2 linked regions of the Homo sapiens genome follow. The protein of the gene in region 2 purifies or fractionates together with the protein of the main gene of each other region. This does not show direct contact. Each region holds a gene or a part of one and is shown on either strand. Other genes may lie near its edges.

What was found.
Region 1: the proteins of FOXR2 (region 2) and POMP purify together in Homo sapiens (affinity purification with mass spectrometry; 3 studies listed by BioGRID and IntAct, with this or other methods). This does not show direct contact.

Annotation. Positions count from the first base shown.
Region 1 is NC_000013.11:28,675,277-28,680,119, forward strand, and holds the end of POMP (proteasome maturation protein), read left to right. Parts: intron 1-2,758; coding exon 2,759-2,826; 3' UTR 2,827-3,683; downstream 3,684-4,843. UniProt on the Homo sapiens protein: Molecular chaperone essential for the assembly of standard proteasomes and immunoproteasomes. Degraded after completion of proteasome maturation. Mediates the association of 20S preproteasome with the endoplasmic reticulum.
Region 2 is NC_000023.11:55,617,932-55,627,192, forward strand, and holds FOXR2 (forkhead box protein R2), read left to right. Parts: upstream 1-5,468; 5' UTR 5,469-5,780; coding exon 5,781-6,716; 3' UTR 6,717-8,261; downstream 8,262-9,261.

The DNA of each region.
Region 1 (4,843 bases), on a different chromosome or scaffold from region 2:
ATTACAGGTGCCCACGACCACACCTGCCTAATTTTGTATTTTAGTAGAGTCAGGGTTTCACCATCTTGGCCAAGCTGGTCTCAAATTCCTGACCTCCGGTAGTCTGCCCGCCTCAGCCTCCCAAAGTGCTGGGATTACAGGCGTGAGCCATCACGCCCGGCCAGGTAGATGATTTTTATCCACCTGGTAGATGATTACAGTGAGACCACTGTATTTGGGGTAGTTTTTTTCTTGTGGGAACTGTTATTGCATAATATACGGTTAACTTAGGGCTTCACCTTAGGGACCTGAATTAGCTGTTCCTTTCTGCCTCAAATAGTTTACCCTCATTTTTCAGATCCCAACCTAAATATTACTCAGAGAGTCCTCCGTTAACTACTGTTAGTCTGTTCTTGCATTGCTATAAAGAAATACCTGAAGCTGGGTAATTTGTAAAGAAAATTTATTTTGGCATATGGTTCCTCAGGCTGTACAGGAAGCATAGTGCTGGTATCTGCTTCTGGTAAGGGCCTCAGGAAGCTTACAATCGTGGCAGAAGACAAAGGGGGGCCAGTGAATTATATGGCGAGAGGGAGCAAGAGAGTGAGGGGGCTGCCACACAGCTTTAAACAACCAGAACTTGTGTGAACTCAGAACAAGAACTCACTTATCCGGGGGGTGGTGCTAGACCATCCATGAAGTGTTCAACTCTGTGGTCCAGTTACCTCCCTACAGGGCCACCTTCCGCACTGGGAATCACATGGCTTTGTTTTTTTTCTCTCTCTGTCACCCAGGCTGGAGTGCAGTGGCGCGATCTCTGCTCACTGCAAGCTCTGCCTCCCGGGTTCAAGCGATTCTCCTGCCTCAGACTCCTGAGTAGCTGGGACTACAGGCGCCCACCACCACGCCTGGCTAATTTTTTGTATTTTTACTAGAGATGGGGTTTCACCGTGTTAGCCAGGATGGTCTCGATCTCCTGACCTCGTGATCTGCCCACCTCGGCCTTCCAAAGTGCTGGGATTACAAGCGTGGGCCACCGCGCCTGGCCGGGAATCACATTTCCAACATGAGATTTGGAGGGGACAAACATCCAAACCATATCAACTACCTAATCTAAAGTAATCCCCGCTCTGTCACCCTGCCTTATATTAATTCTTTACATAACACTTATGTGATATTTTTCTTATTTATTATTTGTCCAACTTAAATATACGTGTCAGGAGAGCTGGAGATTTTTTTCTTGTTAACAGTTGTGTTCCCAGTACCTGATAGGGGGCTTGATCCATAGTTAAGGGTCATGTTGATCACATTCTTATCACCTTTGACACAAAACACAGTGTTAAGTCTATAATCAGAGAGTAGCTTGTTAATCTAAATACTGTGTAAAGACTGTGACAGTATTGGAGATGATGACTTTTTTGCCTGCTTATCAGTGAAGTACTTAGGCAAGTTAATTCTGTACATTTTACAAGATTAAGAAGGACGTATAAGGACACTAGTAGAATCAAAAATAGACTTTTTCTTAATGCTGGAAGGGGACTTTCATGTACTCTAATCCCCTAACTGGAAGATGAGTAAATGGAAGCTCACAGAGGCTCAGTCCTCACTCAGAGTCTCACGGCGAGCTTGTGGTACAACAGATGCAAAACCCGTCTCCACCAGTGCCTTGCTTACATGATATGCTGTCTTTTGGTGCAAGTGATTTATTTAATAAATGCATTTTATTAAAGAAGCTTTAAAAAGCAGGGTGTGGAGAAAAGTTTAGTTACATAAATGAGTATATTCTTTGTGCAAAAATTTGAAATATTACCATTGAAACTCAGATTTGCTGTAGTGACCCTCAATCCCATTTTTCTCGTTCCCTAATTACCGGCTGTTTTAGTTTGGTTTAGTCTGTCCTTCCAGACTGTTCTGCGTGTCTTTCTATGTAGTCAAAAATATTGCCTTTTTTTTTTTTAAGTTGAGGTTTTGAGTGCCTTTTATATACACAGCAGTTTATTAATCTCCAGTCTCTTAGGAGGTCCAGTGAGGAAACATCCACATTGTACTGAACTGTTCCTCTTGGTAGCCACCATTATTATGTGCAGGGTTATTCATTTTTACAAAGTGATTTTACGATTTAGTTCATTAGGTTTTTATTCTGTTTCTAGTCCTATGTTGAGTAGAGGACAAAGAAAAAGTCTCTGTCTTTAGGAAGCTTATGCTTGGTATTAATTTTAAAAGTTCTTTTAGGTGTATAATCACAGTTAAAATAAGGCTTTTGTCTGACTCATCTGTAAACACAAAAGTGATGATTTTTAAAGGTTTTCTTTCTTAAGAATTCTTACGTTTGTGTGGATACAACAGGTCAGAAGACAATACAGATAAAACATTTTTGTGAATTAAGAGATTGTTTCCCGTCCTGTGGGAAGCCACTAGAAAACTTAAGAACTTTGAAAAAAAAACTTTTGTCAATCTGTTTTTTCTTTTTAAATCCACTATTTTGAGATATTATTGACATACAATAAAGTACACCTATTTTTAAGTGTACAGTTCTGTGGGTTTTAATTAACATGGAACCTGGTCTCCTAAACAGAGGAGTAGAATGTTTTCATTGCCTCACAAAGTTCCCTTGGTCCCTTTTCAGTCAGTCACCCCACCCCAGCCCCAGGCAATCACTGGTTTGTTTTCTATAACTTTAGGTTAGTTTTGACTCTTCTGGATTCTTATGTAAGCAGAATCATTGAATGTATCTCTTTTTTGAGAGTCTTTTAAAATGTTTGTTTTTGTTTGCTTTCAGATCCATCACAAAGCGAAGTCATGGGAGAGCCACACTTGATGGTGGAATATAAACTTGGTTTACTGTAATAGTGTGCTGTTCATGGAAACCGAGGGCTGCATCTTGTTTATAGTCATCTTTGTACTGTAATTTGATGTACACAACATTAAAAGTACTGACACCTGAGAATTTCTGCTCAAGTAGTATCAGTGATCATTTAAAATTTGGAGGGGTCTTTGGTTTACAGCCATGTGACAATTAAAAGCACTAAAGGGAGATCATGTTAAAGCTCTTAATTTATATTAAAACAGTAGCCTTTGTCTTTAAAAAAGTTGTTGCTCATGAATATTATAAAATGATCTACAGGTTTCAATTCAACCTGTTTCTAGGTTTTTTTGTAAATTTAGTTTTGATTAAGCATTATAAGCATTTGAGTCTATAAACTTTATAGTAGCATCTTTCAGAATAAACATTTTTAATTGATTTCAGTGGCAACTCTCAAATTGATTACAATATGAGATATATCAGTGTCGTCCATTAACACTCATAAGAATAATATTTACTGTGTCAGTGCTATTTTAGGATTATAGTTATTGTTTGATTATTTCAGGTTGAAAAGTAGAAGTTCCAAGGTTTTGATTTTGGTCTGGTCTTTAAGTGAAAAATTAAAGCAACCAGTAGATGTAGGTTAAACTTTTACTTCATAGACTTAATATGTAATTAATATATTGCCAAGCAACACTGTTAAAGAAAAGTAAAACTCATTTTTTCTTGTTCTTAATTTATATATTACAAGATACTGTAAGGTATTCTTTATGAAGTTGATATATAAAAATTTACATTTTTAGAACATTAGTGAATGGATCATCTTTTACAATTAAAAGTATATTTTGATTATCAGTTTCTTAGGAACATCTTTGATTAGATAAATTACTGATTTGAAACATTTGGCAATGTCTAGAGACTTTTTGGAGTTACAACTTTGGGGTTGGGCTGCTACTGGCATCTAGTGGGTAGAAGCCAGGAATACAGCTAAAGATCCTAAAATGCACGGAACATCAGCATCAATTTATGGTCTTGTAACTAGTTGAAGACACTAAAGGGAAATGAATTTAAAACTCACAATTTATATTTGTACAGTAGCATTCTATGTCTTTAAAAAACTTACTTATGAACATTCTAAAACCATCTACATACAGTTTGCACTCTGCAACCAAGATCATTTGGTTCAAAATGTCAGTAGTTGCTAAAGTTGACAAACCTTGAGAAAAGTCAAGTACACTTAAAAAATTTCTTTTGTTGCTCAGGCTGGAGTACAGTGGCGAGATCATGGTTCATTGCAGCTGAGACTTCCCAGGCTCAAGCAATCCTCCCACCTCAGCCTCCCAAGTAGCTGGGAGTACAGGGGTGCATCTCCACACCTGGCTAATTTTTTATTTTTTTATAGAAATGGAGTTTCGCTATATATTGCCCAGACTGGTCTTGAACTCCTGGCCTCTAGTAATCCTCCTGCCTTGGCCTCCCCAAAGTGCTGGGATTACAGGCATGAGCCACTGCACCTGGCCCGTTACACATTTTTAAAATAGATATCTTGCTCTTACCTATTGAGATTAAGTTTAGAATCGTCTTTGCTAATACAGTGTTCTCCAGCCCACTTTACACTTAAATAATAAGAAAATGTAGAAATAATAAAGATTCACTAATTGCTTCTACATATATTCTCCTTAATTAAGGAAGTTGGAGATTTCTTCTGTACCTTAAACCTAGGAATAATAGATAACCCTTCCTGACCAGTAGAGGGTACTGTGTTTAAGAGTGTAGTTTAAATGGAAAATGTGAGGCTTTAATATAGAACTTGGTAATCACAAATAACACTTTCTGATGGTCTTTTTGCCTCCTCTCTCCTCTTTTAACCTTTGTGTTACCAGTGGCCCTCACCCCTGGATGCTTATAGGAATCAGCTGGGAATCTTGAAGAAATTTTAGTGTCAGTATTTTAATCTCATAAATTCCAGTAGGACTAGTCTGAAATGGATCCCAGGAAGTATATTTTTTGAAAGCTCTCCACGTTGAGAACCTTTTATATGCTTTATTCCCTTTCTTTGCT
Region 2 (9,261 bases):
GAAGGTCCCTGAATTTTAGTCAGATTTATTTCTCATACTCTAGCACTCCAAAGTCTCACCAATAAGTCCACTGTGTTTGCTACTTCTTGCCCACTGGATCTAATCAGCATAATGTCATCAATGTAATGGACCAGTGTGATATCTTGCGGAAGTGAAAAGTGGTGATCAAGGTCTCTTCAAGTAAGATTATGACACAAAGCCAGAAAGTCAATATACCCCTGAGGTACGACAGTAAAGGTATATTTCTGGCCTTGCCAGCTGAAGGCATATTGCTTCTGGTAGGCCTTATGGACAGGAATGGAGAAAAAAGCATTTGTCAAGTCAGTGGCCGCATACCAGGTACCAGGAGATGTGTTAATTTGCTCAACCAATGAAACCACGTCTGGTACAGCAGCTTCGATTGGAGTCACCGCTTGGTTAAGCCTACTATTATCCACTGTCACTCTCCAAGATCAATCTGTCTTCTGCACAAAACAAATGGGAGAGTTGAATGGGGATGTGGTGGGAATCACCACTCCTGTGTCTTTCAAGTCCTTGATGGTGGCACTAATGTCCACAATCCCTCCAGGGATGCGATATTGTTTTTGGTTTACTATTTTTCTAGGTAGAGGCAGCTCTAATGGCTTCCATTTGGCCTTTCCCACCATAATACCCCTCACCCTACCAGTCAGGGAGCCAATGTAGGGGTTTTGCCAGCTGCTAAGTATGTGTATACCAATTATACACTCTGGCACTGGGGAAATGACCACAGGATGAGTCCGGGAACCCACTGGACCCACTGTAAATCGGACCTGAGCTAAAACTCCATTAATTACCTGACATCCATAAGCCCCTACTTTAACTGGAAGACCACAATGACGTTTTCGGTCCCACAAAATCAATGTCAGCTCAGAGCCAGTTTCCAGTAGTCCCCAAAATGTCTGATCATTTCCGTTTCTTCAATGCAGTTACCCTGGTAAAAGGCCGGAGGTCTCCTTGCGGAAGGATGGGAGAAAGATTAACAGCATAAATTGTCAGTAGTGTAATGGGGTCCTTCCTCAAGGGGACTCGGCCTCCTCTTCATTCAAGGGGTTCGGGTCTGTAAACTGGCTCAAGTCTAGAAATTGATTGAGAGGCCGTGATTTTCTGTTTTCATAATTCAAATTAGTCTTTTGTCCATTCGACCTAGAAGTTTTCTGCTTATATAAATTAAGTAGGAATGCAGTAGGCTTCCTATCAATTTCACTTCTAGAACACCATGATTAATTAGCCAATGCCAGAGCGCTCTCTATCTGTCTCCCCACCTCTCTGTCTCGCTATATATACACACACACACACACACACACACACACACACACACGCACAAAGGGGAGTTTACTAAGTATTAATTCACACTATCACAAGCCCCACAATAGGCCATCTGCAAGCTGAGGAGCAAGGAGAGCCAGACCGAGTCCCAAAACTGAAGAACTTGGAGTCTGATGTTCTAGGGCAGGAAGCATCCAGCATGGGAGAAAGATGTAGGCTGGAAGATTGGGTCAGTCTAGTCTTTTTATGTTTTTCTGCCTGCTTTATATTCTAGCCACACTGGCAGCTGATTAGATGGTGCCCTCCCAGATTAAGGGTGGGTCTGCCTTTCCCAGCCCACTGACTCAAATGTTAATCTCCTTTGTCAGCACCCTCACAGATACACCCAGGATCAATAATTTGCATCCTTCAATCCAATTAAGTTGACATTCAGTATTAACCATCACAGGCACCCTTGGGCTGCATGCAACCTATACAACTATACACAGCAGCCATTGGTATTGTACCTGTTTTTCTGGAACCACATATAGCTTACTCATCGTTTTTCCTGTATTCTTTCCTGATTGCCCATTGATGGAAACAAGTACATATCTATGCTTTACAAAAGACATATACTTAAAATGAAAAAAGTACCCATGAATATTTAGCAGTTTCGTATATAAAAGCAACAAATCTTAAATATCCTATGGCATTTTTTTTTTTTCATTACAAGTACCTTTTTTTCTTTTTTTTATAAGAGAAAAGGTCTTATTCCACTGACCAGGCTGGAGTGTAGTGGTGCCATCACAGCTCACTGCAGCGTTGAACTCTTGGGCTGAAGCAATCTTCGCACCTCAGGATTCTGAGTAGCTAGAACTACAGGCGCATGCCATCATGCACAGCTGATTTTTTAAAAAATTACAGAGGCAGAGTCTCACTCTGTTGCCCAGGCTGGTCTCAAACATTTGGCTCCAAGCAATCCTCCTGCCTTGGCCTCTCAAAGCACTGGAATTACAGGCATGAGCCACTGCACCCAGCCCACAACTACCTTTTTTACTTTTAGGAGTATCATCATGTACTTACAGCATTTAACAGACTAAAATAGTTTCAATTAATCATAGCATATGTGGTAAAATAAAAAGTTACAATTTGGTAATGAGAGCCCCTTTAAGGTGACTTTTCATCCTTTCAACACTGCTCCTGACATTCTTGAAAGAATTTTTATTGTAACAAGAGTCTTTATTAATATTGCTGACTTTTTTCTGCCCAAAAATGTGTATCAGCTACCCTCCTTATCAGTCCTTTGAGTGGGGACCAAAATCTGGGCACAGGAATGCTTTTGAAAATTGAAGGCAGGTAACAGCACTGCTTCTACTGCTGCTCCTGTTGTTGGGTGTATTAGTCCGTTCTCACACTGCTATAAAGAACTACCTGAGATTGGATAACTTATAAAGAAAAGAGGTTTAGTTGATTCACAGTTCCACAGGCTGTACAGGAGGCATGGCTGGGGAGGCCTCAGGAAACTTACAATTATGGCAGAAGGTGAAGGGCAAGCCAGCACATCTTCACATGACAGCAGGAGAGAGAGAGAGCAAAGGGGGAAGTGCTACACACTTTCAAAAAAACATCTTGTGAGAACTCAATATCATGAGAACAGCAAGGGAGAAATTCATCCCCATTATACAATCACCTCCCACCATGTCCTTCCTCCAACATTGGGGATTACAATTCAACATGAGATTTAGGTGGGGGACAGAGCCAAATCATACCATTGGGACTGCGTGTGTGTGTGTGTGTGTATGTGTATAAGAGAGCAAGCATAAGCATGCCCATGCTGAAGAGGTATTTCTAAGGTCATTATGAGTTCCCACCACTTTTTCCAACTTTTTATGTTGTTGTGCCATTTTTTGCTTATAACATATGGTTTCATCAACCGCTGACATTTTTGCCTATATCAACACTCGGGATAGGTTGGGACCTGGGAAACAGGCTACCCACAAATATGAGTTTCAGTACTTTTCCAGAGCATGTGCAAAATGTCCCTGTCTCCTTTCCTGGAGCACACTTAAGCAAGATTGGGTTCTAACATGTGTTTGAGATTAACGGAGGCCATCTTTTGATGGTTAACATCTTACTCTAAAACTCATATAGTTTTATGGGTTTTGCTTTGTATAGTACATATACTGTGTTGAATGTGTACCTGGTTGGCATGTGCTAGCCTGTTCTCCATATCTCTGCTTCTGGGTAACATGTCTTTTAAGCTTAAATAATATCTTCCATGGGATCCCTTTTGATTCCTATTATCTGGGTTAAGTTGTTCCTCTCTATGTTCTTCTATTGAAGTATCTAATACTCATCACACTGTATTTTAACCTTTTGTTTACTTCTCTGTCTTTCCGCATTACTCTGTGATATCCTCTTGGGTTGTGTCTTACTCATCTGCCAGATCTATTACATACTTCTTGGAACATGGTGGATGCTCAATACGTAAATATTGAATGTTTCTAAATGAGGCCCAAAGAAACAATACACAGTGATAACTTGGTTTTACTAGCCAATATCTAAGGATTGGAGCACTCTCCCAGGTGAAGATGGAGGAGAAATTCTGTAACACTAGAGCCCCCATTTAAGGAATAAAAGACTGCTGAGCACTAAAATGCTTCCAGGCTCTCCGTGGTTGGCATAATAAGCTAAATATTTCAAGTTAATCTCCTGCTTTTCCAAGATCAGTGCCCCACTGGAAGGAGATCCATTAATTCCCTATGGGGAGATGGAAGCAGCGTTTTTATTAGAGAAGGCTTTCTGTTGTCTTAAAAGATGAGTAGAGGTTAGCTAAGTCAAGGCAATGGGTAGTAAGCCATTTTAAGCGAATGTTTTTGAGCAAAGGGACATGAGAAAAAAACGGGTGTGTGGTGAAGATCCCAGCATTTCAGTACTTTTTGGACGTGAAGTATGAAGCAAGAAAGCTAGGGTGTTAAGTTACCCTGGAAAGGTAAGCAGGGGTGAGATTTTGGAGGGACTTTTATGTTGCATTAAGTTATAAGATTTTATGTTATAACACCAAAATAGAGAAGATTGGTATAGTTAGTAAAAGCATGTGTTCTGCAGTCAGGTTGCCTATGTTTGAAAGTCAGCTCTGGCCTTTACTAGCTCTGTGACTTAGGCTTTTTTGTGCCTTATGTTTTTTACTCTGTAAAGGAAGAATAATAAGAGTACCTACTTCATAGGATTATTTTGAAGATTTGAGTTAGAGTGCTTACAGCATTCTGTAATAATTAACAGTTGGTACAACTGTTGTGTTGTTTTTTGTATTTATGCTGTAGAAAGACAACTCAGGCCACTTGTATGAAAGATTAGAGTAGAAGAGAACCAGAGTATGGAAACAATATGGAGATTAAAGTGCCTCTCCAATAGCTCCCATTGACATTTGCTGGATATGTTTGCAACATAGTCCTATGTAGTGATTTTAATGATATCGCATACTTTACACATGGATTTTGTGCAAACTGAATTAAAGGAAACCTTGCCATTTTATTTTTCTTACAAATGTCCTGGGTGTGAACTTACTGGAAATAGAACCTCTGGGGCTTTCAGGACCTTGCATACTGTGGCTAAATTTTGGTCCTACTGTTCAGAGTATAGTTCAGAACTCATTTCCTAAGAAGGTGACCTGGAGAGAGGAAAGCCAGCTGTTTCCCAGAAAAGGATTGAAAACGGCAGCAAGGTTAGATTCTAGTATCAGTATGAGAATAATAGAGGCCATGTTCTGATAGTTACCATCTTACTATAAAACTCAGGTTGCACATATTACTGCCTGTTGTATATCGTATGTTGAGTATGATCAAGAGGCAATGCGTATAGTGAAAATAAAAGATCTGGGCTGTGGATCTAGCTCTCCTACTTACTCATGTCTGTATATCTCAGTTGCCATGTCTGTGACATGAGGATAATAATACCATGTTATCTTGCAGGGCTGTGATGAAAATCAGTTGAGATCATCTATGTGAAAGCACTTAACCAAAATCCAAAGGCACTCGATGAATGAAATGATTTTTAAAACCATTAAGGAAGACTCAGAAATATAATGTGATCTATACATATGTTTGTCCCTTCCTTAAATGAACTCATCAAGGGTTTAAATATGTGCCAGATGATCACCTATTATGCAAGTCACCATAGTTTGCACATAATTCAGTTTATAATTCCTCTTGAAGTGACTTTCTGCTTCCAATCAAAGCTCAAGAATTCCACCTAAAAATGTTTTTCTGCTCAAAAGCTCTTTTTTATTACTTCCATGTTTTGAGCCTTGTTCCAGAAAGCTGAGGTTTCTCCAGGTCTGACCACTAATCAGTGAGACATTGGTGCCTCTTTCTTCAGTGCTTCTAGCAGGCCTACTGATAAGCTCCCTAGATGAGATACACTGCATAAAAAAATGATGCCCAAAGGACAGCTTTAAGTGCCTGCTAGATATCTGTTCTTTCAGAAGTCTCTCTCCACCTATCTCTCCAGTAAAGATGGACTTAAAACTAAAAGACTGTGAATTTTGGTATAGTCTCCATGGCCAGGTCCCAGGGCTGCTGGACTGGGACATGAGGAATGAGTTATTTCTGCCTTGTACCACAGACCAGTGCTCTTTAGCTGAGCAAATCCTTGCCAAATACAGAGTCGGAGTAATGAAGCCCCCAGAAATGCCTCAGAAGAGGAGACCCAGTCCTGATGGAGATGGTCCTCCCTGTGAACCCAATCTGTGGATGTGGGTGGACCCCAATATCCTGTGCCCCCTTGGCAGCCAGGAGGCCCCAAAGCCCAGTGGAAAAGAGGATCTGACAAACATTTCTCCTTTCCCTCAGCCCCCACAAAAAGACGAAGGGTCTAACTGCTCAGAGGACAAAGTGGTAGAGTCTCTGCCATCTTCCTCCAGTGAGCAGTCTCCTTTACAGAAGCAGGGTATCCATTCCCCCAGTGACTTTGAGCTCACAGAAGAGGAGGCTGAGGAACCAGACGACAACTCCCTCCAGTCCCCTGAAATGAAATGTTACCAGAGCCAGAAACTATGGCAAATCAACAACCAAGAGAAGTCCTGGCAAAGGCCCCCTCTCAATTGTAGCCACCTTATTGCCCTAGCATTAAGAAACAACCCCCACTGTGGCCTCAGTGTGCAGGAGATCTACAATTTCACCCGACAGCATTTCCCCTTTTTCTGGACAGCTCCGGATGGCTGGAAGAGCACCATTCATTACAACCTCTGCTTCCTGGACAGCTTTGAGAAGGTGCCAGACAGCCTTAAGGATGAAGATAATGCAAGACCTCGCTCTTGCCTTTGGAAGCTCACTAAGGAGGGGCACCGCCGCTTTTGGGAGGAGACTCGTGTCTTAGCCTTTGCTCAAAGGGAGAGAATCCAAGAGTGCATGAGTCAGCCAGAGTTGTTGACCTCTCTCTTTGATCTTTGAAATGCCATTGCTCCCTTTTGGAACACTGCCTTCCTTACTGTGCCTACTTATCCCCTGACATTCATTAATCTCTAAACTTACCCAGCCTGGTTGGTGCCAAGTCTGTCTTTAGCTACTGTTACAATAATGGTGTTAAGTAAAGTTAGAGGTGGGTACAGGGGAGACAGAACTTAAATCCAGGTGGAGAGTCATGGAAAGTCGCACGAGGAGAGTGGCTGTTGTTCCAAATTTTGAGCAAAGGAAAAGAAATCCTAGAAACAATGGCATAGAAACTAAGGAAAGAAGGGTGTGTTTTGTGAAAGAAAGGAATTTTGTTTATAGAGAGTATTTTCACACATGAAAGTGAACAGTGGAATATAAAGCATAAAAGGCAGGATGGAGCCGAGCCATGGAGAACCTCGAGTGCCATGTGAAGAGAATTTGACTTGTGATGAAGAATCAAGTTTCCCCTTCTACCATTCATCAGCTACATCTCCTTTTTAAGTAACCCATTTTATCCTTCAGAACCTCACTTTTCTATTTCTGGCCCTGGACTTCTAAGCCTTGTTTCTTTGTCATCCAATTCCAATATTGACAAATAATTCTAAACAGCTACTTTTAGTTTGTATGTTTAACGTCCTGTGAAATATTCCTGTATTAACCCCAAGCCTTTTGATGATAAAGCTTTATTTTCTATTATTTTTAGTTCTCAAGATTTTATTGAGGATATGCTAATGTGTCAAGGTCCATCTTAGATGCTGAGGATAAAAAGCTGAGGGATACTAGTGGGAGACATATTTATAATGTAAATATGATGAAACAGATGTGAGAAATTGACATGGAAATGGGGAGACATTCTTCCTGGGAAAGACATGAAAGGGCATTGGAAAAAATACATTTTGAGCTAGTTTTGAAGAATAAATGGCAAACTGGAGTAGAGGCATTACAGAGACAACAATGTGAACAAAGTGGATGGAGTGTTTGGGGGAATGGCATGAAGTTCAGTGTGACTTAACTACATGAGGACCGTGAGTGACTAAGAGAAAACTATTAGGTGTTTGGACTTCATCTTGTGGGTTTTTAGGAGCCAAGAGACATCAGTGGAGTTTTGCTAAAAAACAAAAAAAGAAACAAGCCAGCAGCAACAACAAACACTACAGCATTTGTTTTTCTAATTTCAAAATTATCTTTAACATCTTTTCTATGCAAATAAACTTTTGTTTATCAGATTTAAGCATAGCTTTTTGCTTCAATGATATTAACATATATCCAGGAGAAAATAGATTTTTAGGTATAAATTTAGTTGCAAAACCTTCATAATGGGGGTACAAAAACGCCTGTAAGCTACAAAAGCAATTAATTCAATATAATTGTAACTATTTTCAAAGTTCACATTTTTATAATGATGTATTATACCTCATACAAAATTGTATATTTAGGTTAAATCACAAAACAACATATGCAAACAGTATTTTTTGAAAAAAATTGTAAATGCTACTTCTGTATCATAAGGCAAAGACCAAGTTAACAGAATACCTTGGAATTAATAAAATATTCTGCATATAAGTAGTCACCAGTTGCTTCTCATTTTTCTCCCAGATTAACACTTACTAGTAAAAGAGCTGGATGTGAAATTAATGAGACTATTTTTATCACAAACTACACTTCTAATATGCCTAGTCTGTAAACTTCTCAAACAAGGCAAGCTTTCATTTTTAGAACTAGACCTGGAGTTTTCTGCTGCAACCTGGTACCTCTGAGCTTTGAACTCTATTCAGTATTTTCTGATCCTTATTTCTGCTCTCTGGTTGCATGAAAAAAAGCAGTGGCTGGATATGGTGCTTCTTCAGTAATGTCATGATCCAGATATACCTTCAGAGGAACTTTTTAAAAAAATTATAAATTGCTGTAATCGAGTGCAAAATAAAGGAAACTTGAGTTGCTTCATTCAGCTTCCAATTTCTAGGAGGCTTAAGAATCATAAGAATTCTGGATAACAAAAGAAAATAAGACTGTGCTTATAGAGCTTGTTCTGCCGTATTTTTTCTTAATGATTGCTACTTTATTGTTGCTTTTCCTGTTACATGTGATGTATGCATCAGGTGTTAAAAGGTACAATACTTTCTACAACTGAGCACCTTTTTCTGTAAATGAACAAGCAAAGAAATTACACTGAACATCTGCATCTGGCAGTATGTTTTGGAAAAATGACTAAAAATGGGTTTAAATTTAACACTATTAAATCACATCTAATATTTGATACTACACGATTCAATACAGCTATAAAATACAATTATACAAAATATGTTAACATCAAAGAATACAACTAAAATTAAGATAGCAAACACAACCTATATAACTTCTTTTTATAGGAAAATATTTTTGAAGTATGCATGTAGCTGCCCATTCTTTTAAAGAAAATGTACTGCAAGCAAACTTATCAAACTCCAGAAAAATCACACATAGCATTACTAAGCATATCCCCCAAAGTGTACAATATGCACATTTGGAAAACACAAAATTTAAAAAATTGTAAACAACAGGTGAGCTTCGTATTTACAACAAT